Linked DNA regions of Homo sapiens. Changing the gene in region 1 together with any one later gene gives a genetic interaction. Each region holds a gene or a part of one and is shown in the gene's direction. Other genes may lie near its edges.

What was found.
Region 2: changes in INPP5K (region 1) and ASPM together harm fitness more than expected from each alone (negative genetic interaction), as found in Homo sapiens cells (one study listed by BioGRID).

The regions. Positions count from the first base shown.
Region 1 is NC_000017.11:1,511,680-1,523,048, reverse strand, and holds the start of INPP5K (inositol polyphosphate 5-phosphatase K), read left to right. Parts: upstream 1-6,436; 5' UTR 6,437-6,549; coding exon 6,550-6,593; intron 6,594-6,930; exon of another isoform or gene 6,931-7,161; intron 7,162-7,463; exon of another isoform or gene 7,464-7,622; intron 7,623-9,069; coding exon 9,070-9,177; intron 9,178-9,487; coding exon 9,488-9,596; intron 9,597-11,369. Other genes in the region: PITPNA (phosphatidylinositol transfer protein alpha isoform), read left to right, coding at 1,404-1,448. UniProt on the Homo sapiens protein: Inositol 5-phosphatase which acts on inositol 1,4,5-trisphosphate, inositol 1,3,4,5-tetrakisphosphate, phosphatidylinositol 4,5-bisphosphate and phosphatidylinositol 3,4,5-trisphosphate.
Region 2 is NC_000001.11:197,099,516-197,111,038, reverse strand, and holds part of ASPM (abnormal spindle-like microcephaly-associated protein), read left to right. Parts: intron 1-5,853; coding exon 5,854-10,608; intron 10,609-11,523. UniProt on the Homo sapiens protein: Involved in mitotic spindle regulation and coordination of mitotic processes.

The DNA.
Region 1 (11,369 bases):
ACTTTCCACCTCTGCATCCTTGTGCCTAGTTCTGACACCACATTGTGCCCACCTTTAAACAGGTCAGGAAAGGGAAGTTCTGTTACTCTGCCGGGAACTCCTCTCCCGGAGAGCCACAGGATTTTCTCCCTCATTTCTCTCAGGTTTCATCTCAAACCTCACATACAAGCTTCTGTAACTACCTAAAATAGCACTTACCCACAGTCATTCTGTATCCGAGCAGCCCACAGTCCTAGCTGACATAGATGAATGTTTGTTCTCTGCCCATCCTGCCCCAGAATATAAGCTCCTTGAGGAGAGAACTGGTCTGTTTAGTTCACAGCTAAATATTCCCAGCCCTCTGGAAGTCCCTAGCACTAAAGAGATGCCTCACTGAGGCTGGGTGCGGTGGCTCACGCCTGTAATCCAAGCACTTCAGGAGGCCAAGGCAGGCAGATCATCTGAGGTCAGGAGTTCAAGATCAGCCTGGCCAAAATGGTGAAACCCCGTCTCCCCTAAAAATACAAAAATTAGCTGGGCGTGATGGTGCATACCTGCAATCCCAGCTACTTGGGAGGCTGAAGCAGGACAATCGCTTGAATCCAGGAGGCAGAGGTTGCAGTAAGCCAACTTTGCGCCACTGCACTCCAGCCTGGGCGACAGAGCAAGACTCCTCACACACACAAAAAAAGATGTTTCGGCCAGGCGCGGTGGCTCACGCCTGTAATCCCAGCACTTTGGGAGGCCGAGGCGGGTGGATCATGAGGTCAGGAGATCGAGACCATCCTGGCTAACAAGGTGAAACCCCGTCTCTACTAAAAATACAAAAAATTAGCCGGGCGCGGTGGCGGGCGCCTGTAGTCCCAGCTACTCGGGAGGCTGAGGCAGGAGAATGGCGTGAACCCGGGAAGCGGAGCTTGCAGTGAGCCGAGATTGCGCCACTGCAGTCCGCAGTCCGGCCTGGGCGGCAGAGCGAGACTCCGTCTCAAAAAAAAAAAGATGTTTCATAAGTATTTGTTGAATGAATAAATGAATGAAACGGGCCAAGTGTGGTGGCTCACACCTATGCTGTAATCCCAGCACTTTGGGAGGTTGAGGCAGAGGATCGTGTGAGGCCAGGAGCCCAAGACCAGCCTGGTCAACATAGGAAGACCCCCCCACACACACCTCTTTACCAAAAAAAAAAAAAAAAAAAAGGTGCTTCAAACACCGTGACACGAGAGAACTAGAAATCATGGATGGTGAGACCAGTGACACAGATCTGGAAATGTATGGCTTCGAGTCCATATGCAGAATTCTTCCGTCCTTCCAGTGTCTTGCTTTTTACACAAAATATGCCCCACCCCACCTATGGGCAGGACTGAGAAGGCAGGAGTTCCATCAGCAGCAGGAGCCTTCCATTTGTCCTGCTTTTTTTGTTCCAGATGAGACAAAAGGACCCAGTGAAAGGAATGACAGCAGATGACTAAAGCCGCCTTTCCCCTCTGCACTGTACGTACCAAATTTCTCACTGTGCGTGTCACAGACGCTAAAATCAGTTTGGGTTTCAAGGCCTCAGCAGCTCACTATGGAGTCAGAAAACCTATTCCTCCTTCCCTCTAGTAATGATGGTTGCCACGCTCGATAGCTCTCCACTTCCACTAGGAGATTATGGCCCTTGGGACATTTCAGGGACATTTTCCAAAGAACCACCCAGATAGAGACAATGGACAGGGAGGGGGTGGTGGATATAGAAGGGGAGTTCATCTGCTGCGAATCACTCCTCCTGTCTGCCAGCTTGATCCATCTCAAGTTGCAGCTGTCATGTTGGGCACTCCCTGGCCTTCCCACGCCAGCGCCAGCTCCCAAAAGCTGCCATTACCTGCCCTTCCCCCTTGGAAAACTTGCTGGCCAGACAGCTTTTGTTAGCACCCACTGTTGTCTGGTGCTTCATTTCCTTCTTTATACCCCCGATCCCATACTAAGCTGCCCTCATCAGAGGTGGCATCTTTCAGATGCTGGGAGGGTGTTTCTGCCCAGGTCACAGGGCCAGATTGGGGGCCCCTTGTTTCATGTTGTCACTTTTCCCCAAGCCCCCTCCTTCCGTTAACTCTCGGTGCTGGTTTCCCAGTGCCCTGTACACCACCCGAGTCATGGGATTCCAGCAGCTCAAAGCAGTCTTAATCACTGAATGAAAAACCTGGCTCTGCTCCCAATTAGCCTCAGAGAGAAAATTATTTTTACAAATAAAAGCTGGCCTCTAACCCTACGGGCAAGGAGGGCCAGGGTCTCACCAGGAGTGACGGCAGGCCCTGCTTACTCTCCCTGCCCCATGTTCCCAAAGCAGCCTCGGGGAGGCTGGAGGGTGGAATGAGGCGGACTGCTGTGATGCCAGCTTCTCAGTCACTGCTCTGGGCCTCAGTGCTCTCCCCCACTCCCTTCCCCACCCACCCACTGGCTTCCCTCCTCCTCTTGAAATTATCCATTCAGGACGATTTACAGTGTTTCTGTTTTCTCCTCTTGCTTCCTTAATACTTTCATTTTTCTTCTAGTTTTGCAAGACAGTGGTCAACAGGAAGACCCAGCAGCTCCACCCTCCCAAGTGACAGGCCATTTTCGGACGCAGCCGTTCTGTGCCCATTCTTCAGGCAACTTTCGATTCCTTACTGTAGCTAATTCTAGATGCCCTTCAGTATTGTGAACAAATAGACCGTCTGGTGTCACAGAGCCCGCGTGTGCAGGAGCCTGCTCCTCCGAGATACGTGGCGTGTAGGTTGCTGTAGTTACAGCGCCTCCGTCTCTCTCCATTGTGTTCCGATCCATTTCTGTGTGTTCCCCCAACCTTTATTTCCAAGTGACATTTTCAGTCTTTCAAATAGCTGCCTTTTGTGATGTGGTGATTTAAATGATTTAAGTTCATTTGTTCTCAACCTTGGGGTAAACTGAGGTATTTTGCTTCCTGGGAAGATCTTCGCAATTTTGAGTGCTCCTGTGGGGAGCGGGGATGAGCTAAAGATACAATGTTTCCCTGCCCCGCACCGCTTCCACAAAATAGCAATGTGGTTTTGCAGCTCTGACTTCTGCTCCCAGTAACCCATCGTTAGGGCACTCTAGCACTATGGAGGTACCCAAGGCTCAGCCAGTCTCTATTTAAGAAAATTTAACAAATACGAGTAACCCTGTCCCAATCACTGAATCTCTAGTTACTACTCTTAGAAACACCTGTGGCTTCTTGGCCCTCCTGTTGCCCGCTCTGAATCTCTCTGCAGTCTACAAAATCGCCCCAGTCAACTCTCCACTTGGAGGGAATTGTCCAGTGTGGCCCCTAGAATTGAGTCACCCCCTAGATACCAACTGTCTGACCCCGAGGAGCTCTGTAAGTCCCTGCTCCTCCTCTTCCCTTTGGGGCTGGTGCTGCCACTCAGCAATAATCCTCTTTTCTCTGTGCTTTCTTAGGTCCCTGTCCTCTGTCTTTGAGGCTGGTTAGGAAGCAAGAGTCCTGATCTTTCATGCTGCACAATATGAGCATGCAAAAAGCTTTTTCCAGCAGAACATGTTCCCTCGTCTCCAGTTGCCGGAAAGGAATTTGGGGATCAAGAACTTAGCTCGTCCTACCCCCATGTTGAGTTCTGCCCTGGAAAACCCAAAGCAAGTAGTGATCATAGTACAGAACCCGACCAAAGTAGGCTGGTGAGGAAGTCCAGGCTCCAGGGGAACAGACGCTGCCCAGTGTTCATAGCTTCCTGCAACTTGACAGAGCCTGAGTTTGCCTCTTAGTGGGAGAATGAGAGAGAGCTGTAGTGTCACCTGACATTCCCCAAACCTTGTGAAGCACGTTGGCCTAAGTGTGCCGTGATCCCAGCCCACACTAGCCTGGGTGCATCTGCTAATGGGAGACCAAATCTTTGTCCGGGAAGCAAGAAGTGGGTGGGAGAATGTATCCTGTTTTTGTCAGTTTGTTTGCCTTACTCATTTCTAAGTGCAATAAGGGAGTGTCTCACAGGATTGCACCTGTGACATCCTGATGGATGCTTCCCTGTGGCCCTCCTGGGGCAAGGGTGGACAGACTCAGACCCCCAGCATGGTTAGCGCTGACCTTCATTGAGGTCCCTTTGGAACCAGATGTCTTGTTACAGACACCTTCCTCTGTGTAAGTCTCCTCACCTTGAGGGGTCTTTAGTAATGCATCTGGGTAGCATCTCAACTGCTGGTAGCATTTATCTGACTTGGAAAGTTGGAGAAGAGGCATTCCTACTGGAGAAAAATGTCAGTGTTTTCCTATAAGCTCTGTGTTAGCTATTCATTATATTTGTGCTTAAAGATGTTCCTTCATTCATCAACTAGGGGAAGTCCAGATGCGGGTTATCTTGAAAGAAACAAACTGACATTCTAGGCAGACAGTTGTCTATGTGGTCTGAGGGTCAGCAGCTGTTAGTCTCCTTCCTTTGGCTCTTGAGACCCACACATATCACTTTAGCCCTAACAAGGGCTCCTCCCACCTCCACCTGTTGCCCCAGTTGAAAAGCATCCATTATGAGCTGAGGTCAGCCTGGATCTGGAATTGCAGCCCACATAAACATAAAGGAGGATGTCCCTGGTCTGTTCCATCCCCACGGATGGTGTTGCTGCTGGGCAACAGTGTTGGCTTCTTTTAAGTACCCCCTTTCCTCCTCACCCACCTCCAAACTGACTAGCACTCAGAGGGACTTATGATAAAGGTTCAGCTCCAGGGGTAGTACCTGAGTGTGTGCCATGCCCCTTCAGACCAGCTGCTTCCATCAGAATTCCAGGGTCACAGCCCCAACAGAAGCAGCAGTGCCTCTGTAGGAGGGGTGCTGGGCTCTGGCCTTCTCATGCAGAGAGGTCCGGGACAGGGTCAGTATCGTGGGCATGTGTATAGCTTCCCAAGTTCTTTTACAGTCCCTGCTGGGACTCCCTGACTTACTTTGGTTGGTTCCTAGTGCTACTTGTTTTACAAACTACACTTTGTAGAATTGATTAGATTACCTTGTTTATTTAATGTGAGTTTGTGCCTTTTTGTCTCAATCTTCCAATACAGGTATATTGAGAAAAAAAGCAGTCTAATAAAATCCTAGACAGAACTTTCTGGAGTCCAGTTTGGTGATGTCCATTTTCCAGCTGTATGTATCCTCAAACTTGCACTGATAACCGCCATTTTACCAGGGCAGGATTAGGAAGAGGTACAAAGGTGTGTCTGAAAATTTTTGCACGTGGATTTCTGCATATAATAGTCCCGTGTCAGTTTACTTATGCAAACATTGCACATCTGAATTGTAATTCGGCCGTTTCCTACTGACAGGATGTCCTTTTGCTTTTGTCTGCCTCCTCTTCACATCTTCCTCTTTATCCACCCTACCAAACAAGCAAAACATTTATTTAAAGTAGTTTTAGGCCGGGCGCGGTGGCTCACACCTGAAATCGCAGCACTCTGGGAGGCCGAGGCGGGTGGATCAGCTGAGGTCAGGAGTTCGAGACCAGCCTGACCAACATGGCGAAACCCCATCTCGGCTAATTATTATTATTATTTTTTTTTTTTGAAACGAAGTCTCGCTCTGTCGCGCAGGCTGGGGTGCAGTGGCGCAATCTCGGCTCACTGCAACCTCCACCTCCCGGGTTCAGGCGATTCTCCTGCCTCAGCCTCCCGAGTAGCTGGGATTAACAGGCGCGCGCTATCAAGCCCAGCTAGCTTTTGTGTTTTTAGCAGAGACGGGGTTTCACCATGTTAAGGCCAGGCTGGTCTTAAACTCCTGACCTCAAGTGAGCCGCCCGCCTCGGCCTCCCAAAGTGCTGGGATTACAGGCATTGAGCCACCGCGCCCCGGCCTACGTTTCATTTATTGACGGCTAATTCTGTAGGAGTCCAGGAATCCCCAAACGTCCCATATGCAATAGGTAATCCAATAAGTTTGGAGTAGAAGCCTGAAAGTGGGCGTGGAGAACGGAGGCGCTCCCGCAGTAGCAGGAATGGGGAGATTACCTGCAGCCGGGGGGCGGGGGAGACCGGATCCCAGGCAGGACAGTGGCTAGGCTGCGTGTCCCCACCCCCGACCCTCGTTTGACCCCTGGGAGCCGGGGCGAAGACAGCACAAGGACGGAGCCCTCGGATCCCTCACGAGTGGGGCAGAGGCTGCGGCGGCGGCGAAGAGACAACTTCCGCCGGAAGACGGCCCCTGGCGCGGGGCACGCTGGGAGCTGCGGACGGCGGGCGCGGGCTGGGCCGGGTCTAGTGGCGGCCGCACACCTCGCGTCGTCTGGGGCAGTGTTGCGCGTGCGCTGATGACAGGCCCGACACGCCCCTCTTACGTCCGCGAACCCGTCTTCGCTCAGCCTCTCGCAGCTTTGCGCTCGTGGGAGAGTCCCGCCTCCTTCTGCGAACCGCACCACCCAGATCCCGGGGTGCGCGGAGGGCGCGTCTCTGACGGAAGCCGGGGCGGACGGTCGGAGTCCGGAAGAAAAACAGTCCGCGACAGCTAGGCGCGTGAGACCGGCCGCCCGCAGGGCTGCTCTGGCCGGGACCCGCTGGCCGGGAGACGCGAACCTGCCGGACCACCGCGCGGGGACGACGGCGGCCATGAGCTCGCGGAAGCTGAGCGGGCCGAAAGGCAGGAGGCTCAGGTGAGGGCACCCTGGCGGCAGAGGCAGGCCTGCTCGGGGGGATCGGCGCCCCTTGGGCTGCGGGCTGGGGGTGGACAAGGCACCAGACCTCCATGACTGCCTTTGGTTCAGAGGCGCTCTCGCCTTCTCCCACGCCTGTGTCAGGTGGGCTGTGTTGGGCCCGAGCCTCGCGCCCCCTCTAAGCCGAGGCCGCCAAGCTCGTTCCCACTGGGGCGCAGCAGGTGTCCCGGTTGCTTTCTGGAGAGGACAGCCGTGTGGGGTTGTTTGAGGTTAAAGACATAACGAGGCCGTCACCCTTCGGCTCTCGGTTAGAAATCTTTTTCCTACTTTTCATCAGCACATACATCAGGAGGTCTGCCTGATCCCATGGTGAACCCCGGGAATCCGAAATCAGATTGAGATAAGATCCTTTAGGGAAGTGACTTAGCCTGGTCTCTTGCCTGCTCTTTCACGGGGAACAACGCTAATCGCCCACTTAGTCTAAGTCACGATGCTTGGATTTGCTGCTAATCGTCGGATTTGAGAGTGGGAACAAGAAATCCGGACTTTTGCTCTCCATCCTCTTAGAGTGAGTCTGGGAAAAGAAGTCTCTGAGTAAAAGGTCTTTGTTCCTTAAGCCTCTGTCGGACAGCAGGGGGAGATCGTAAACAAATGAAGCTCAAAATCTCAGGCCGAGTGCCTGGGAAGGTGGTTTCTGTATAGTGTTGTTTATGCTAACAGGGAGGGACAGGAAGTTGCTTTAAACTGGCCAAGAATTTCTTGAAGTGCTTTTGAGAACGTCGACCTCTAAGGACGGGGTCTGTTGGAGGAGAGATGTTTTGGCATTAACTGCCCTTTTCTCCCATCCCCCTGTACCCTCTGCCATTCCAGATCTCCAGCTGCTGCAGGTACTCCTCATCGTGTGCCTAGGACTCATGCTAGGCTGTTCCTGGTCTCTGCAGGGTCTGTAGCTCCTGCCCGCTCTGTGCTCCGCACAGTCTGAGGCTTCTTGAAGAGCTGCTGTGACTGACTGTTCCACTAAAGACATCTGTAGGTCTCTCTTTCCTGAGCCTCTGACTGGATCCAGTGTCATTGAGGCCCCTTATCTAGTTTTCTTGCTTCCCTAAGACTTGTAAGCTGAGGTGGAAAATATCCAACTGATGACTTTTCCCCAGAGAGTACTCTTTATTTTTCACGGAATACTACGCAGACATAGAGCATAGACTCTTAAGAGAGATGTCGAGAAACCTGTTACTTAAAAACTCCTTGGCCGGGCGCGGTGGCTCAGGCCTGTAATCCCAGCACTTTGGGAGGCTGAGGCGGGCGGATCACCTGAGAGATCAGGAGTTCAGGACCAGCCTGGCCAACATGGTGAAACCCCGTCTCTACTAAAAATACAAAAGTTAGCCAGATGTGGTGGCACACACCTGTAATCCCAGCTACTTGGGAGGTTGAGGCAGGAGAACTGCTGGAACCTGGGAGGCGGAGGCTGCGATGAGCCGAGATCATCCCAGTCCACTCCAGCCTGGGCAACAGAGTGAGACTCAGTCTCAAAAAAAAAAAAAAAAAAAGTCTCGCTGAAGTGCTTGGCAAAATTGGCTTGCTCCAGGGATCTGCTAGGGAGGAGAGAGGAAGGGAATATGGTGGTGTTATCTCTTTTATTTTTTAAATTCCTCTGCCCTTGTAGTGCTGAGGCCTATCACAAGGTGAAATCTGAATCCCTAGGATCTTCCTGGTGGTCTTAGGAACACTTGGGGTGAGAAGTAGGGATCAGAAGTTGCCGACTGAGCCATAGATGATGACAGAGGGGTGTGGGTGGCTGGAGGAGCTGATGGAATTAATACATTCCTGGCAGTTCAGCCCCCTAACCCTTCGCTAGCCTGACCTGAAATTCTTGGGCTCCCTTTGGCGACTCTGCTATATCAGCAGCACCAGTGCTGCCGGGTGTGGGTGGCTGTGAGCCAGCATGGAGGACCCAGTCCGGGGTGGGGATTTCTTGCTTCAGCAGAGAAAGGTGAGGACGGACAGCTGATGGTTCAGTATCCCCATTCCCTCCACCAGCACAGAAACCCACATTTCCCATCATGAGTGTGGCAGATTGCAGTGACATAAGCAGGCCTAGACCCCGTGCACTATCTTTTTTTTTTTTCTTTTGAGACAGAGTCTCACTCTGTCACCCAGGCTGGAGTGCAGTGGCACAATGTCGGCTCACTGCAACCTCTGCCTCGTGGGTTCAAGCAATTCTCCTGCCTCAGCCTCCAGAGTAGCTGGGATTACAGGCGCCTGCCACCATGCTGGGCTAATTTTTGTACTTTTAGTAGAGACGGGGTTTCACCATGTTGGCCAGGCTTGTCTCGAACTCCCGACCTCAGGTGATCCGCCCACCTCGGCCGCCCAAAGTGCTGTGATGACAACGTGTGAGCCTCTGCGCCCAGCCGACCCCGTGCACTATCTTATCCTCCTTCCTCCATGACTTCCCTCTGCATCCCTTCCGCAGCATACACGTCGTGACTTGGAACGTGGCTTCGGCAGCGCCCCCTCTAGATCTCAGTGACCTGCTTCAGCTGAACAACCGGAACCTCAATCTTGACATATATGTTATTGGGTAGGTATCTGCAGGCTCCTTCGCCCATCCCTGACCAGTCCCAGGTTTCCCTGTGGGAAGCACTGTGACCTGCCCTCCTCCGCTCTGGAGTCTGAAGGCTGGGAGCTTTCAGCCTGCTTCAGGGACAGTCCCATGTCTCTGGTCCCGGGTCAGCAACGGCAAAGGGGGCTGGAGATCAGCAGGCAGGGGAGGGAGACCTCATGGCCATCAGAACTCAGGCCTTGAAAGTCCGTGAAGATGGTATCAAATATCTGTGGCAGGGGAAGTAGCCTGGAGGCCAGGGGCCAAGCCTCTGAGCTGGCATGGTCAGTTTGCAGGAATTGAACTCTGGGATCATAAGCCTCCTTTCCGATGCTGCCTTTAATGACTCGTGGAGCAGTTTCCTCATGGATGTGCTTTCCCCTCTGAGCTTCATCAAGGTAACTTGCCAGTTCATTGGCACTTGACAACTGTGTTTTCACATCTCCACTGACCCCTGCTTGTTGGGTCTGATGTGTTCCTCTTACTCCTGCTCAGCCTTTCATGCTGTTTCCCATTTGTTTAAAGGGCTAAACCTCCCTTCCACCTGGACCCCGGGGCCCCTGCCTGCCTTCGCCTTTCTGAGGGAGCTGGAGTCTCCAGGGGTTGGGTTAACACCTGGATATGTTTCAGCTTGGGAAGATTCTGAGGGGAGGTGCAGCAGGGCTTGTCATCACCTCAGTGCTGGCCGCTGCCCCAGCCACCAGTCTCTACTCAAATGCCCATCCTGAAGTCTCTGAGTGTAATCATACGGCTGTCATTTATCAAGTGCTTACTTGTTGTTACACATCATAAGTAGCTCTTTATAGTATATATGTTATTTTAAAATCTTAACAAGTCTGTTGAAATAGAGATATTTTACAGAGAAAACCATGGCTCAGAAGCCACATGCGCTATCTGGGATTTGGATCCAGATCTCTCAAACTTCATAACCCAAGTTCTTAACTACTAATACCTTATTGCTATGCTGGTGAACTCTAAGACTGACAGATCTTAGGCGTGGCTAGCCTGCTGGTGTCATAGGGTATCCTCAGGTCATACGGGACGTGCACTTCAGATTCTGGGGGTCCAGAGGTTAGGAGAGGGGAGTCAGGTGTGGTGGGTACTTTGGGCGGCTTTCTTAGTCTGAGAGACCAGTATACTCTGGGGTGTCTTTAGACAGTAGGAGAGTCCACAGGAAGGCCCTGGGTTGCCAGATCTTCACCTTCACCTTGGTTCTGCCCTGCACACCTGAGGAATGAAACACACTCCCATTCACAGCACCTGGTATACAGCTGCTTAGAAATACCAGAATTCCCTCTTTCCCCTTCCTGGATGACTCTTGTTCTTCAGAATGGATTCTGTCAGCCTAGTTTGCCTGGGGGTACTGAGGCAAGAGCTGTGTGTCCTTTGGAGGGGGAGCAGAATGGGGAGGAAAGAATCTAAGGTTTAGAACTCCTGCTGAGGATAGAAAACACCAGCCCGAGTCCTTGGTTCCCTCCACATCAAACCCAGAGGCCTCCTTCTGTAGATAGGGAGCTAGATCCTTACAGAGGACACAACCACTTCTCTCTCACCCGCCACTCCCTTCCCAAGACTGCAGGCCTCCTTGCTTCTCGGCTGACTGGCAAAGGATTGGTAGGATGGAATTGAGCCAAGGAAATTAGCTCAACTTGTGGCAGAGACACAGCCCTTTCTACCCATGTGGCCTACTGAGATTGGGAGGCCAGACTGAGGGCCTGGCACCCAAAATGAATGCCCTTCTTTCCCCAGCCAAGAATCAGGGTGGATGGGTGAGCTCCGTGCATTTGCCAGCTATAGACTGAGAAGGGCTGACCCCCTTCCACTGCTCCAGGGCCCCCAGCCACCTCCTGCTAGTCCTTTCTTCGCTCCTCCTACTTCATTTCCTCCAACTAGAACTTTCCCTAGAACTCTCCTGCTTTTCCCACAGCCCCACCCTTTCTCCCAGTCTAACTCTGTCCTGCCCCGACCCCACCCTCCCCGCCCCCACTTCCCTGCTGCTCCTTCACAAAGCGAGCCAGTGTCTTTGTGGTGGAACCCAGTGGCCTAAAGCTGCTTTGTGGGTGGGGATTAAGCCTGAAACTTTTCCTGAGTCTTTATCAGTCCCCTTGCTTCAATCCTGACCCTGGGAGTCAGCCCCTCATGGTCCAGCCCGTCCTCCATCCCTGTTGGCA
Region 2 (11,523 bases), on another chromosome or scaffold:
AAATTCTTTCCCAAGGCTGATATCCGGAGTAGTATTTCCTAGGTTTTCTTCTAGGGTTTTTATTGGTTTGGGTCTTACATTTAAGTCTTTAATCCATCTTGCATTAATTTTTTGTATGTGGTGAAAGGAAAGCGTCCAATTTTAATCTTCTGCACTGACCGTTTATTGAATAGCATATCCTTTCCCCATTGTTTGTTATTGTCAACTATGTCAAAGATCAGGTGGTTTTAGGTATGTGGTTTTATTTTTGGGTTCTCTACCCTTTTCTATTTGTGTAGTAGACATCAGCTATTCTTATATGTGTGATTCTGTTTCTAGTATTTCTTTCTATTCAATTGGTCCATTTGTCTATCTTTGAGCCTCGCACTGTAGCAGTAGGTGAAATCTGGATATCTAGTAGGTAATCCTCCTTCTTTGTTAGTGATTTCACACAATTTCTCCCAATCTGCAGCTTGTCTTTTTATTCTTGTAACAGGGCTTTTTGTTCAGCAGAAGTAGTTCATTTTATTGGAATCCAGTTATCACTTTTCTTCTTTTATGGATTATGCTTTTAGCGTCATATCAAAGTACTCTAAAAGTTTTATAATTTTTCATTCTAAATTTTGACCTATGATGTATTTTGTGTTAGTTCTCCTCTAAGGTAAGGGTTAGGTCAATGTTCACTTTTTTTATATATACATGTCCAATTATTCCAACACTATTTGCTGTAAAAAACTATTCTTTCCACATTGAAATGTCTTTGCACCTTTGTCATAAATCAGTTGGTCATATGTGTGTTGATCTTCTGGACTGTATTCTGTTTCATTAATACATGTGTCTATACCTTCATCAATACCACAGTTTCTTGATTACTGCAGCTTTATAGTAAGCCTTAATGGATATTGTGATTCGTCCAATTTTATTCTTTTTTCAAAATGAGTTGGAATTTTCTAGTTGCTTTGTCTTTCCATTTAAGTTTTAGGTTAGTTTTTCTATGTCCTCAAAAAATACTGTCAAATTTTGATTGAAATTGCATCACATTTACAGATATTTTGAGGTACACTGACAACTTTACTATGTTGATTATTCTGATTCATAAAGGTGATACATATCTCCATTTATTTAGATCTTTGAGTTGTTCATCATCAGCTTTTTGTTAGATTCATACCTCAGTATCTTATTTTATTTTGGAGCTATTATAAATAGTATTGCTTTTTAATTTCAGTTCCCATTTGTTTCTTTTTTATAAACATTCATCCTTATATGTTAACCCTTTAACATATAAAAGGGTTAACTATTAATCCTGTTAAAAAAACTCACTTATTTCTATGAAGTTTTTATGTTTGTTTTTGTTTTAGATTCTTTGAGATTTTCTACATAGTCGTGTTGTCTGCCTTTCTTTCCAATCTAAATATTCTTTCTATTTTTTATTTCCCCCACTTATTTTATTGGCTAAGAATTCCAGTATGATGCTAAATAGGAGTGGTAAGATTCAATATCTTTGCCTTGTTCACGCATTAAGTATTATATAAACTGTAGTTTTCTTGTAGATGCCCTTTATCAGGTTGAAGGAGTCTCTGTTTCTTAGCTTACTGAGAGTTTTATCACATAGATTTGGGTTTCATTAAATACTTTTTCTGCTTCAATGGATATATTAACATTTATTGGGTTTCTAATCTTACTGTAAACTTACATTCCAAGGATAAAATTCAAATATTAGTTATGTATTTTTTATATGCATTGATATTTCATTAATTCCACTTGCTAGTATTTTATTGAAGAGTTTTGCATCTGTGTAATGAGTTGGGAAGTTTCAGCGTTCTTTTATGTTTTCTGGAAGAGATTGTTGACATGTTATTATTTTGTCTTTAATTATTTTATACAACTCACCAGTGATACTATCTTAGAGTGGAAATTTCTATTTTATTTTATTTTTTTCCTCTTTTTTTACTTGACATAATTGTGCATATTCATAAAGCACATAGTGATGTTTTGATACATATACTGTATAGCGATCACATTAGGACAATTAGCATATTCATCATCTCAAACATTCTTCTCTGGACTTTTTTTTTTTTTTTTTTTTTTGGAGACAGGGTCTTGCTCTGTCGCCCAGGCTAGAGTACAGTGGTGCAAACACAGCTCACTGCAGCCTCAATCTCCTAGGCTCAAGCCATCATCCCACCTCAGCCTCCCAAGTAGCTGAGACTACAGGCATGTACCACCACACTCAACTAATTTTTGTATTTTTTGTGGAGATAGGGTCTCACTAAATTCCCCAGGCTGGTCTCGAACTCCTGGGCTCTAGTCATCCTCCTGCCTTGGCCTCCTAAAGTGCTAGGAATACAGGTGTGAGCTACTACACCTTGCCAGATTCTGTTTTTTAAATTTGTATAGGACTATTTATCTTTGATGAGTTTTGGCAGTTTCTAATTTTCGAAGAATTGGTCCATTTCATCCAAGTTGTTGAATTTACCATATGTATATACAAAGTATATCTTTAATATCCTTTTGATGCCTGGGTAGTCTGTAGTGATATTCCCTTTTTCATTCCTGATATTGATAATTTGTATCTTCTCTTTTCTTCTTTGTCAGTCTTGCTAGAGTTTTAACTCTCTTGATCTTTTCAGTGGACAACCCTTTGGCTTCATTGGTCTCTGCTCAGTCTTTATTATTTCTTGTTTTGATTAATTTTGCTTTTCTGTCTATAGTTTCTTTAAGTATAATCTTGAGTAACTGATTTGAGTCCTTCCACTTTTAATGTAACACATTAATGGTATAAATTTTCTTCTAAATACAGGTTTAGCCACATACTACAAATTTTGATATGGTATTTTTTTTTCATTCAGTTCAAATAGTTTTTAATTTCTCTTGAGGCTTTTTCTATGATTTAAAGTTTCAGAATATGTTATTTACTTTCTAAATGTTTGGAGATTTTCCTATTATTTTTCTGTTAGTGACTTTTTCTTCAATTCCATTATGACCAGAGCACATACTGTGATTTCAATTCTTTCCTATTTGATAACCTTTAGTTTATGATCCACAATATGGTCTATCATGGTCAGAGGTTGGTATATCTGCAGGCCAAATTTGGCCTACCATGTGTTTTTATAAATAGAGTTTTTTAGAATATGGTCACAACTATTTGTTTATGTATTATTTGGGAGCTGCTTTTGTACTACAATAGCATAATTGACTTGTTGCAACAGAATTGGCCCACAAAGCTGAGATATTTGCCATCTTGGCTGTCATCTCCATTCTGCTATTGTGCCATACCAGTGAATTTTTATTTTGGTTAGTGTGTTTTTCGGTTCTACTATTCTCACTTGGTTCTTACTCATATCTTTGATGTCTTTACTGAGACTTTTTATCTTTCCATTAGTTTCAACTTGTTGTAGCATTTTTACTTTATCTGCTCTAAAGTCGTTGTCAGTTAATTCCAATTCCAGTATCTTTGTCATCTCATCATTGGTGTCTATTGATTATCTTTTCTTGTGAGAGTTGAAATTTTTCTGTTATGTTGTATGTCAAATAATTTTTAATTGCATTCTGGAAATTTAATGTTATGTTATCAGACTCTATGTTTTGTTTAAATCCTATGGAGAATGTTGATATTTTAGTTTTAGCAGCTAATTCACTTGATTGGGTTCAGGCCACCTGTTCTCATCAGCCTTCCATGAGCGTAGCTTCAGTGACAGTTCCTTTTTGAAAGCCTTTACAGTGAGTGATATTTGTATCATATCAGTTTCATTATGTAACACCCAGTAGCCAGTCTGGGATCTAGATTGTGATCTGTATCTTATTCAATTCTTAAAGTCTATAGCCTACTGTGGTCTAGATTCACATTGTGCACAACTTGGTGGTGAACCTAGAAATTCATAAACAACATTATCAGATTGCTTCCCTGAGCTCCCCAGTCTCTACCATCTCCCTGGTACCCTCTAGTTCCTCAGGGCTGCCTTGTTTCATCATCTGACCAGAAAACTGAAGATTGAGTTACACTGCTCTACTGCATTCTTTCCATGACTGCGCCCATATCTCAAGCAGAGAAACTCTTTTGTATGAGGAAAAACAAAGTATGGCACAGGTTATAGTTACTGGGAGAGATGAAGAATTGGGCTGTTAATGCACTCAACCTGCTGCAGATATCTGTGGTAGAGTAGAAAGAACATTTGATTTTGGTGTAATAATGTAGATCCTAAGATCAATTATTTTTATTTGCTGTGGGACTTTGCAAAAAGTTTTGTAACATTAGTGTTCCTTTCTTTAAGTGAAGAAACAATGCCAACTTAATGTATTTTTGTGAGAATTAAGTGAGAAAATTGTATGTAATGTGTTCCTTAGTAAAAGCTATTTATTTTTAAGAATTGTATGACAATGGTGAAAAAATTGCTATTGTAATAAGCAAAACTGTTAGGAGAGGAGATGATCATATCTTCCATGTTATATATCAACATTGATTAACATTTCAGTAATGGAGTAGTAATAGTAATGTAGAAAAAGTGATTATTAAAGTATAAAACAATCTGTACACACTGATTCTTCAATTTCTTAGTTTGAGGATTTTACATAGAAATATCTGTTGGGGGTGGGTGCTCAAAAGAAAAATAATATCTGAATTTCTGAGTACTATTACTGCTTTACTTTGCCCTAATTTAAAGCAAGTTAATACTTTATGTAGAGTTTATTGTTTTCAAAATACTTTTGTACAAATAAGTTTGACTGTTGTTGGATAAATATTTTGACAACTTGTGCATCTCTTCTTGGTAAGATAAAATGTATACAATCATTTCCTGTCAGGTTGAAGAGTATGAACAAAACCTCAGGTAACATTTAGTAGAGGAAGAAGACAATAAAACTTACAGGAAAAGGGTCAGGAAAAGGGATGTGCATGTTCTCCTTAAGCTTCCTCACCCATGGATAGGTATGCTTAGGCCAGTGATAGCTGCAAGCAAACTCGATACTGCTATAGGAGAGCGAGGTACCCAGTCCCTATATTACTCTACTTATATGCGAGAAAAAGTAAGATGTAGTAGAGAACAACCTCTCCATGCCACCCCCAATCTCAGCAATGTTTGGAGTGTTTGTACAAAGGAATGGTCTTATTGCTAAAACATCTAGAACTTGACTACCATTAGCCTGGGACCATTTTAGATACCAGCAACTGGAATTAGCTTGAGAGTTTGTAGCTCTTTTTGTTGAGCCAACATACAGTTGGATTAGCCATTGTAACCATGGCTTTTCAAAAGACAAAAGTTTTGTCATTTCTCAAGTCTTTCTAGAATTCTACTTTTAAGCCATGTATTTATAGTTCCTAAATTTGGGAAAAGGAAGTAATTTTATTCTTAATGAAAATAATGACTCTGAGAGTGATCTGGTTTATTTATTCCTAAATTCCTATATTTATATTATCAGGCCTGTAATGTGATAATGCAGGATCCTTCACATAAACAGTTTCTAGTCATTATAAGGTAGCTTAGAAACATTGAAGTAAGGGGACCATATAAGGCCCAGAAATAAACTCATAGGAAATTACTTAGAATCAATAGATAGCAAAGAATATTACTATAGTTTTATTTTGACTCTTTTGCTTGTAATATAACATAAACTTGCTTATGTTTCTTATGATTCTGGCATACAAATGCAGTATTTAAATATAATGAAGATTTGGATGGATTTCTGAATTGGCTACAGGTATATCAATGTAAAACCTAAACTAAAAACAAAAGAGACAAATATCTCACAAAAATAATTAGTTTTCTAATTCAATGTGTTTATTTTTAAGCAGAATGTTAGAAAAATTAGTATTTTGAAAAGTGTTAAATATAGAAAGCTATGCCTATTTTACTTTGTGTCCTTTCTTACCTTTTCCAGGGATATTGGAGAAGATATTCCACTAGACAAAGATTTCTGAAATTGAAATATTATTCAATCATCCTGCAATCTAGGATAAGAATGATAATTGCTGTTACATCTTATAAACGATATCTTTGGGCTACAGTTACAATTCAGAGGCATTGGCGTGCTTATTTAAGAAGAAAACAAGATCAACAAAGATATGAAATGCTAAAATCATCAACTCTTATAATCCAATCTATGTTCAGAAAATGGAAGCAACGTAAAATGCAATCACAAGTAAAAGCTACAGTAATATTGCAAAGAGCTTTTAGAGAATGGCATTTAAGAAAACAAGCTAAAGAAGAAAATTCTGCTATTATCATACAATCATGGTATAGAATGCATAAAGAATTACGGAAATATATTTATATTAGATCTTGTGTTGTTATCATTCAGAAAAGATTTCGGTGCTTTCAAGCCCAAAAGTTATATAAAAGAAGAAAAGAGTCCATACTAACCATCCAGAAGTACTACAAAGCATATCTGAAAGGAAAGATTGAGCGCACCAACTATTTGCAGAAACGAGCTGCAGCCATTCAATTACAAGCTGCTTTTAGGAGACTGAAAGCTCATAATTTATGTAGACAAATTAGAGCTGCTTGTGTTATTCAGTCATACTGGAGAATGAGACAAGACAGAGTTCGATTTTTAAACCTTAAGAAGACTATTATCAAATTTCAGGCACATGTAAGAAAACATCAACAACGACAGAAATATAAGAAGATGAAGAAAGCAGCTGTTATAATTCAGACTCATTTCCGAGCTTATATTTTTGCCATGAAAGTTCTAGCATCTTACCAGAAAACACGCTCTGCTGTCATTGTGCTGCAGTCTGCATATAGAGGGATGCAAGCCAGGAAAATGTATATTCACATCCTCACATCTGTTATAAAGATTCAATCATATTATCGTGCTTATGTTTCTAAAAAGGAATTTTTGAGCCTAAAAAATGCTACAATAAAATTGCAGTCAACTGTTAAGATGAAACAAACACGTAAACAATATTTGCATTTAAGAGCAGCTGCACTATTTATCCAGCAATGTTACCGTTCCAAAAAAATAGCTGCACAAAAGAGAGAAGAGTATATGCAGATGCGGGAATCTTGTATCAAACTGCAAGCATTTGTTAGAGGATACCTTGTCCGAAAGCAGATGAGGTTACAAAGAAAAGCTGTTATTTCACTACAGTCTTATTTCAGAATGAGAAAGGCTCGGCAGTATTATCTGAAAATGTATAAAGCAATTATTGTCATTCAGAATTACTATCATGCATACAAAGCACAGGTCAATCAGAGGAAGAACTTCTTGCAAGTCAAAAAAGCAGCTACTTGCTTGCAAGCAGCTTACAGAGGTTATAAAGTACGCCAGCTAATCAAACAACAATCTATAGCTGCTCTTAAAATTCAGTCTGCTTTTAGAGGCTATAATAAAAGGGTAAAATATCAATCTGTGCTTCAATCTATAATAAAGATTCAGAGATGGTACAGGGCGTACAAGACTCTTCATGATACAAGAACACATTTTTTGAAGACAAAGGCAGCTGTGATTTCCCTCCAGTCTGCTTATCGTGGCTGGAAGGTTCGGAAACAGATTAGAAGGGAACATCAAGCTGCCTTGAAGATTCAGTCTGCTTTTAGAATGGCCAAGGCCCAGAAACAGTTTAGATTGTTTAAAACAGCAGCATTAGTCATCCAGCAAAATTTCAGAGCATGGACTGCAGGAAGGAAGCAATGTATGGAGTATATTGAACTCCGTCATGCGGTACTGGTGCTTCAATCTATGTGGAAGGGAAAAACACTGAGAAGACAGCTTCAAAGGCAACATAAATGTGCTATCATCATACAGTCATACTATAGAATGCATGTGCAACAAAAGAAGTGGAAAATCATGAAAAAAGCTGCTCTTCTGATTCAAAAGTATTATAGGGCTTACAGTATTGGAAGAGAACAGAATCATTTATATTTGAAAACAAAAGCAGCTGTAGTAACTTTACAGTCAGCTTATCGTGGTATGAAAGTGAGAAAAAGAATAAAGGATTGCAACAAAGCAGCAGTCACTATACAGTCTAAATACAGAGCTTACAAAACCAAAAAGAAATATGCAACCTATAGAGCTTCAGCTATTATAATTCAGAGATGGTATCGAGGTATTAAAATTACAAACCATCAGCATAAGGAGTATCTTAATTTGAAGAAGACAGCAATTAAAATCCAATCTGTTTATAGAGGTATTAGAGTTAGAAGACATATTCAACACATGCACAGGGCAGCCACTTTTATTAAAGCCATGTTTAAAATGCATCAGTCAAGAATAAGTTACCATACAATGAGAAAAGCAGCTATTGTTATTCAAGTAAGATGTAGAGCATATTATCAAGGTAAAATGCAGCGTGAAAAGTACCTGACAATTTTGAAAGCTGTTAAAGTCCTTCAGGCAAGTTTTAGAGGAGTAAGAGTTAGACGGACTCTTAGAAAGATGCAGACTGCAGCAACACTCATTCAGTCAAACTACAGAAGATACAGACAGCAAACATACTTTAATAAGTTAAAGAAAATAACAAAAACAGTACAGCAAAGATACTGGGCAATGAAAGAAAGAAACATACAATTTCAAAGGTATAACAAACTGAGGCATTCTGTAATATACATTCAGGCTATTTTTAGGGGAAAGAAAGCTAGAAGACATTTAAAAATGATGCATATAGCCGCAACTCTCATTCAGAGGAGATTTAGAACTCTAATGATGAGAAGAAGATTCCTCTCTCTCAAGAAAACTGCTATTTTGATTCAGAGAAAATATCGGGCACATCTTTGTACAAAGCATCACTTACAGTTCCTTCAGGTACAAAATGCAGTTATTAAAATCCAGTCATCATACAGAAGATGGATGATAAGGAAAAGGATGCGAGAGATGCACAGGGCTGCTACTTTCATCCAGTCTACTTTCAGAATGCACAGATTACATATGAGATATCAGGCTTTGAAACAGGCCTCCGTTGTGATCCAACAGCAATACCAAGCAAATAGAGCTGCAAAACTGCAGAGGCAGCATTATCTCAGACAAAGACACTCTGCTGTGATCCTTCAGGCTGCATTCAGGGGTATGAAAACTAGAAGACATTTGAAGAGTATGCATTCCTCTGCAACCCTTATTCAGAGTAGGTTTAGATCATTACTGGTGAGGAGAAGATTCATTTCCCTCAAAAAAGCTACTATTTTTGTTCAGAGGAAATATCGAGCCACCATTTGTGCCAAACATAAATTGTACCAATTCTTGCACTTAAGAAAGGCAGCCATTACAATACAGTCATCTTACAGAAGACTGATGGTAAAGAAGAAGTTACAAGAAATGCAAAGGGCTGCAGTTCTCATTCAGGCTACTTTCAGGATGTACAGAACATATATTACATTTCAGACTTGGAAACATGCTTCAATTCTAATTCAGCAACATTATCGAACATATAGAGCTGCAAAATTACAAAGAGAAAATTATATCAGACAATGGCATTCTGCTGTGGTTATTCAGGCTGCATATAAAGGAATGAAAGCAAGACAACTTTTAAGGGAAAAACACAAAGCTTCTATCGTAATACAAAGCACCTACAGAATGTATAGGCAGTATTGTTTCTACCAAAAGCTTCAGTGGGCTACAAAAATCATACAAGAAAAATATAGAGCAAATAAAAAGAAACAGAAAGTATTTCAACACAATGAACTTAAGAAAGAGACTTGTGTTCAGGCAGGTTTTCAGGACATGAACATAAAAAAACAGATTCAGGAACAGCACCAGGCTGCCATTATTATTCAGAAGCATTGTAAAGCCTTTAAAATAAGGAAGCATTATCTCCACCTTAGAGCAACAGTAGTTTCTATTCAAAGAAGATACAGAAAACTAACTGCAGTGCGTACCCAAGCAGTTATTTGTATACAGTCTTATTACAGAGGCTTTAAAGTACGAAAGGATATTCAAAATATGCACCGGGCTGCCACACTAATTCAGTCATTCTATCGAATGCACAGGGCCAAAGTTGATTATGAAACAAAGAAAACTGCAATTGTGGTTATACAGAATTATTATAGGTTGTATGTTAGAGTAAAAACAGAAAGAAAAAACTTTTTAGCAGTTCAGAAATCTGTACGAACTATTCAGGCTGCTTTTAGAGGCATGAAAGTTAGACAAAAATTGAAAAATGTATCAGAGGAAAAGATGGCAGCCATTGTTAACCAATCTGCACTCTGCTGTTACAGAAGTAAAACTCAGTATGAAGCTGTTCAAAGTGAAGGTGTTATGATTCAAGAGTGGTATAAAGCTTCTGGCCTTGCTTGTTCACAGGAAGCAGAGTATCATTCTCAAAGTAGGGCTGCAGTAACAATTCAAAAAGCTTTTTGTAGAATGGTCACAAGAAAACTGGAAACACAGAAATGTGCTGCCCTACGGATTCAGTTCTTCCTTCAGATGGCTGTGTATCGGAGAAGATTTGTTCAGCAGAAAAGAGCTGCTATCACTTTACAGCATTATTTTAGGACGTGGCAAACCAGAAAACAGTTTTTACTATATAGAAAAGCAGCAGTGGTTTTACAAAATCACTACAGAGCATTTCTGTCTGCAAAACATCAAAGACAAGTCTATTTACAGATCAGAAGCAGTGTTATCATTATTCAAGCTAGAAGTAAAGGATTTATACAGAAACGGAAGTTTCAGGAAATTAAAAATAGCACCATAAAAATTCAGGTATTTCTATATTTAATTTAAATATAAAACTGTGAGTCTTTCTTTTGACCAATATTTGTTAGAATGTATAAAATGAGCTTAAGCAGGTCATAAAGAATAGTACTTAGTTGAGGTGACCATTTATCTTCCAAAGTGGAACATTTTTGAAAGAGGGAAAGGGCACTAGTAAGTCAGCCAAGACAGCACAGAACGGGGATTGTTCTGGCCATGGTCACCCTATGTGTGGTGCATTTCAGTATGGGTTAATTGTAGCACTCTTAGAAGAATTTTGAGAAAATAGGAGTCCTGTATTTGGCAAAGTTATTTCTTTAAGTGGAAAATATAAGCTAAGATAAAGTATTATTTGGCATAATATAGGCAAAATAGAGTAACTTTGTTCCTCTAATAATCTATTAACCAGAGCTGTTTGCTGCTTAGGCTAGTAGACATACTTTATTCTGAGTGTTTAGTACTTTGGCTTCCAAATCAATTTTGTATTATTTTGTTTTGTCTATTTGCCAAATGTGTGAGGAATGTACAGTATTATCTCTTTTAAAATATGAAGGAAGTGATAAAGTTTAAGTAATTTGGCCAATGTTGCATAGAGAGAGGCAGATCCAGGAACTGAATCTAAGTACTTCAGCTATTTCTTTTTACCTGCAATAACCCAGGCTTTAACCCAGATGTGATATGTTCATATCTTACTGGATTACTGTTAAATTTAGAAATAATGTTTTAATTCAAGAAATGTCAAGTGCTAGAAATGTGCCAAATGCTGTAGTGGGTGTTATAAATAGACAATGAGTAAGATATACTTAGTTGCTGTCCTCAAGGAACTTAATTGAACAAGGAAGTATAATTATAATACAACATGAGAAGTGTATGTTTCAGGAAACACAGAATGGGAAATCAAGCTAGTCTCCATGGTCAGAGACT